2 separate regions of the Homo sapiens genome follow, and region 1 is linked to region 2. The links come from fine-mapping of genetic effects on gene expression. A gene starts in region 2. The other region holds a variant in brackets. All regions are shown on one strand. Distances are from middle to middle.

Region 1 (2,821 bases), 53 kb before region 2:
CTGAAATCGTGCCACTGCACTCCAGCCTGGGCGACACAGCAAGACTCTGACTCAAAAAAAAAAAAACAAAAAAAAAAGAGAACATAGTCAATCTAGGGAATTGAGAGTAGCCGCTTTCAAAAAAAAAAAAAAAAAACAGACAGCAAATATACAAATATACCAAGTATAGAAAGGGCATGAGACAGAGTAAGGTCAGGGCTTGGCTTCAGCTCCCCACCCCACCACCCCCGCTGGTGGAACATTCTTTCATACATTCCTGCTGATCACAAAATCCACATCACCACCTCGCTGACGTTACACATGCTAACCCTAAGGCTTTAGTCATATAAAGAAAATAGCCACTCTCCTGTGCTCTCATAATGTTTACCTATGCCTTTTACTTAAAGAATTCCAGGAACTGGCCTTAGGAAACCTAAATATCAAACCAAAGTGCAGAATGTCAAACCTTGGGAAAGAATGATTTGTAAGCAGCCTTTTTGCCGCTGGCCAGACCACCAGGTGGCCCATTACTCAAGATAACCATCGGGACCAGACATATGGACCTGCATACCCTAACCCCCACATGCTTCTCCCAGCCCAGCCTGCATACCTTACCCCTGTGTCAATTCCCCATGCTTTGTCTGATTAAAAAGTCTCTACTAGCTTTTTGGGGAGCCAGCTTGAGGATCCTCATACCTCACCTCCACTGTCTCCCTTGCCCTTGAGCACAAGCCCCAAAATAAAAGCCTTGTCTGGGAAATCTGCTTGGCCCTGTGTTAAGTTTCATTACATGGGGAGCTAAGAAGCATGTGACCAGCATCTATGGTCACATCCAACAACCCAACAGAAAGGTGGTTCAAGATGGTGAATGAATCAGAATTCCCAAGAGAACTGCCCGTGTACCCACTCCTTTCTGTAAAGAGATGAAGCTCCTGGATAAGTCAATGAATGAAGAGAGGATGAAAATAAGGCTGAGCGAAGTAAGATAGCACACTAAGATGAGAGACAACTTTCTACCAAACTTCATTGACATTGGGGAGAAATAAGAATGCGCTGGGGGACAGACAAGGTAGCGGTGAGGAAGGAGAGGAAAAAAGCAGCAATTTTATTCTCTTTATTTATAGAAGACAGACTCCCCATTCCGTCCTTGAGCCTTATCCAGACTCTCAAGCTGGGGCTCTCAAGTAGGAATAAAGTGAAAGCAGAGCACTGTCTCCTCCTTGTCACTGAGGATGACAGCTGATTACATGGGGAATACTTGCTAGAATTTGATTTGGAGCCAGTGATTTGACGCTTTCTAGAGGTGAATTTCCCGGCTTAAGATTGATGGCAATGCTTAAGAAGGAGTGCCACCTTATCACAAAACACATCTGAGAATTAGTATTCACCTCTCCACTCTAATAAGGAAACCTAAATATTTCACATTTTTAATGTATAATGGGTATATGCTAGTCTAGAAAAGAAAGTAGTTAAAAGTTATTGATACTGACACATATAACTCCATTT[A/C]AGTTATTCAGATATGTTTTTAAATGTCCTTAAATAATCATATGACAGACATCTTCAAACAATACGTGGGTAACTAATGACTGTGGTTTAAAATGAAATTACTATTCCAACTCCAGGATTCCATTGGCCTTTCCAGTTCCAAATGCAAATCTACTGTTCATAATCCTAGCAGTGATGACAGAATAGAAATGACTTTAAAATTAGTAAGTACGATATGAAAAATACATTAATGATATTTTATTAACATAAAAAGCAGTGGTCCATCATAAGCCTCTGAGCTCTGCCATCTTCAAGCCCACCTTCAGGCCCACCTTCAAGATCCTCACATCTGGTAAGAAGAAAATCAGCAAATATCTCCATTCCCCCACCACAGAGAACTAGGCATTGCATATTGCACATGTATACACAAAATTCCAGTTTGTTCTTAGATTTCGAAATTGTCAGGGACACTTTCATTTTATGCTTGTTTTTCATCTTGAACAAAAAGGAAACAGGGAAATAAAAGGATCACCTTTTTAAAAATATATTCCAAATTTTTATAGATGGTAAAACCAATAACAAAAATTTTAATTAATTTTAAGTTTTGTTATGTCTGAAGAAAGCTAAGTTCAATTTCTGAACCATCGTTTCTCTTCTATGCCAGTCATGCTCTCTGTCCTCTCATAATTACCCAAATATGTTTAATGATTTTGACAACCCAAAGGTTGACATCTTAATTGGCTAATGAAACAGGATGGAGCAGGACAGTCTGTTTCTTTTAACAATGAATGGCTGGGAAACACATCCCAGGAATCTGCCAATTACTGTTAAGCAGAACCAAGTTTTAGTCTTACTTGAGAGGCTGTCACAAACTGATCTGTTAGAAGGCAAGTTTTTTGCTTTAAGTCCAAGGGCGGGCATATTCTGTTTGCATAGTTTTCTTTATCATCAAAGAAAAACAACAACATAGTGCTTGAATCAACAGAGTTCTTTTAGGTCCATTTAAAGTAAAACTCACGGTGGAGGAGCCAAGATGGTCGAATAGGAACAGCTCCGGTCTACAGCTCCCAGCGTAAGCGACTCAGAAGACAGGTGATTTCTGCATTTCCATCTGAGGTACCGGGTTCATCTCACTAGGGAGTGCCAGACAGTGGGTGCAGGACAGTGGATGCAGCACACTGTGCACCAGCCAAAGCAGGGCGAGGCATTGCCTCCCTCGGGAAGCGCAAGGGGTCAGGGAGTTCCCTTTCCTGGTCAAGGAAAGGGGTGACAGACAGCACCTGGAAAATCGGGCCACTCCCACCCGAATACTGCGCTTTTCCAACAGGCTCAGGAAACTGCCTACCAGGAGATTATA
Region 2 (2,821 bases):
ATTTAATGTTCATGTAGCTGAAGCTTGCCATAGAGGTCTCACACTAAATACCTGTGACCCGACAACTCCAATTCTCATCACTTAACTATGACTTTTGTGTCTCAGTGAAATTTTTTCAAACAATATCATCTAGTTGGCTTGGCCTAACCTATGGATCGACTCTCAGAGTAGGTCTCCCCACCCTGGTCCAATCATCATAACCAGGGAGTAGGGTCATATGATATAAACATAGATGACTAGGCCCATCTGTTCAGCAGGGGAACAGATTCTTTTAGAAGGGAATGTGGGCAGAAAGGCAATTATATACATCTCTAACCAGAAAAATCCCAGGGGTGGAAATGATAGGAAGAAATGGCACCAAATTTAAAGATAAAAGAAAAGCTGCCACTGTAATTCAAAATTAGACAATGTAACTGATCATAGACTTTTGCTATAATCGCTATTTTGGCCTTATAATCTCTGAAATTTACTTTACAGAACAGTGAAACACTTCTTTGAGGAGAAACATTATAGAAGAAAACAATCTTTGATCTAGAAACCTAAAAAGATATTTATGCTCATTATATTCCAGGTGCTGAAGAGTGTCAAAGCACAGCTAAATATTATGCCATTTGTGCAGACTCGGAATGAGTTTAAGCACTGAAAGAGCTACCAGAATACCCCAGCAGAACATCTCAAAACAAAGCATTATTTCTCTCTTAAGAAAATTACCAGGCTGGGCACGGTGGCTCACACCTGTAATCTCAGCACTTTGGGAGGACGAGGCAGGCGGATCTACCTGAGGTGAGGGGTTCGAGACCAGCCTGCCCAATGCGGTGAAACCCCGTCTCTACTAAAACTAAAAAAAATAGCTGGGTGTGGTGGCGGGCACCTGTAATCCCAGCTACTCAGGAGGCTGAAGCAGGGAGAATTGCAGTGAGCCGGATTGCACCACTGCACTCCAGCCTGGGCGACAGAGTGAGACTCCATCTCAAAAAAAAAAAGGGAAAATTACCTATTTGCACTTCTTGATTTCCAGGAAGGTGTTAGAGATCTTCATCCCATCCCCAGCCCAAGTCTAGACGTGTTCACCGGAAAGGAAGAAGTTTTTGAGTTCTCAGCAGTAGCTGTGGCTCTAAGGAAAGCAGTGTTGTATGGGTATTAGAGTAGTACAACCAAAGCTCTGCTGGAACAAAAGAGGAACACAGAAAGCTAGGAATGACAAGTGTTTTTCTTCCCTCTCATATGATTCAGTCAGGCTGTCTTTGACCTACATAGCCATCTGACTGGCCACTGTTTTCTTTTCTTTCTTTTCTTTTTTTAGAGATGGGATCTTGCTGTGTTGCCCAGGCTGGACTGAAACTCCTGGGTTCCAGTGATGCTCTCTCCTGAGCTTCCCGAGCAGCTGGGACCACAGGCATACACCACTGCACTGCACTGCACTTGATTAGGTATATTTTAAAATGTAAAATAATAGTGAAAGGATTCTCCCTAGTCCCCATAAACCTGGGAATGGATCGAGGTGAGGACACCAAAACTTTCCCCTGAGACATGGAAATTGCACTGAATGTTTCTTGATGGTTCTAATGCATTAAGAATTAAGAGCTCTTTGCCTAGATTACCCCCAAAATATTAAAAATAACAAAACAAAGTAGAACTAAGGAAAAATATAAGACACATAGAGAAAATGTTTTTCAAAAAATGTTATTTGACCTATGGCTAATTCTGATTTTAAAAGCAGTTAAACAAACGAAACACAACCTAGTGATGCTTACGACTGAAGAAACCATTGATACCTGAAAGAAGGGAAGACTTTAGATATAAAGGCAGAGTGGAATTTTTTTAACCAACATTTCATGCAGCAGCTCCACATGGCCTTCCCATGTCTCAATAGCTTTGATTTGTGGAAATAATGGTTATGCAATTTCCACATATTGTGCTCCAATCACAGCATGTAAGCAACAATAAAAAGAAAACAACTAAATGTACTTGAAGCTGGAGATTTTGATAAGGTTTTCTTTTCACTTCACAAAGTTTGTTAACTGGATATTTTTCTAAGGCAACTGAAATATTCCTGCTGAGTTTCAGACAGATATATGTAAAAGCAGCAAAGTGTCTGATTTTCTTAAATGTATCTATGGCAGCAACACTAGTTAATTTAGTTGTGAAAAAATAACCAAAAAGAAACTATCGGACTATAAGAATTCCACAGTTGGCAGACTGTTGGTATTTCTCTTTCTCTTTAAATATATATATAAATATATCTATAAATATATATAAATATCTATAAATATATCTATAAATATATATATTAAATATATATATGCCATCTGTTTACAAAAGATGAGAAATGTTGGAGAAAATTATTTCCCTTAGGGTATAATGTTATGGCCATTCAGAGAGAGGTCTCTGGTATTTTCAAGGAGAATTTGGTACAAGAACAAGACAGCATCAGGTCTGCACAGTCATTGGCTGCAAAAAACAAAGATGATTTCCTTTAGTCCCTGTTTTAGTTTTACTCTTTGAACTTCCAAGTTTATTTATTGTTATTATTTTTAATGTGGCACAGATTGTTTTAAGAATCAACTTGGTTCCCTTTTTTGAAGTCCTTTTTTTTTTTTAATTTGTTGAGACTGGTTTCTAAAGTGCTCCACCTCCACCACCTGTCATTAGATGGGGGGCTGCGGCTTGGAGAACACTCACAGTTCTGAGTTCAGCTGTGGACGGAATAATGAAGGGCAGCTGCAGAAGGAGGTAGAGCTGCAGATTCAGAGGTAGGTGGCAATACAGTATTTCAAAATAAAAACTACCAAGCTTCAGATCGGTGATAAATTGTCATGCA

Alleles and levels. Alleles are on the strand shown, and positions count from the first base shown. SD is a standard deviation of normalised expression in the study named.
With allele A in place of C in region 1, the expression in prefrontal cortex of the gene that starts at base 1,164 in region 2 is lower (large effect, 1.6 SD a copy in CommonMind).

Evidence for each region. PIP is the estimated chance that this variant, and not a neighbour inherited with it, causes the effect.
Region 1: its variant is the best candidate, but not a certain one, in a credible set for the expression of LINC01827 in prefrontal cortex (CommonMind, PIP 0.53).

What each region holds. Positions count from the first base shown.
Region 1 is chr2:195,520,521-195,523,341 of GRCh38, forward strand. No RefSeq gene overlaps it. Among named protein-coding and RNA genes, the nearest start is that of LINC01825, 11 kb to the right of the region's middle. RefSeq lists an enhancer at 2,429-2,821. The variant A/C (reference allele first, on the strand shown) is at 1,486.
Region 2 is chr2:195,573,330-195,576,150 of GRCh38, forward strand. LINC01827 (long intergenic non-protein coding RNA 1827) reads right to left here and starts at 1,164. Exons shown (of 2, transcript NR_187191.1): 1 at 995-1,164.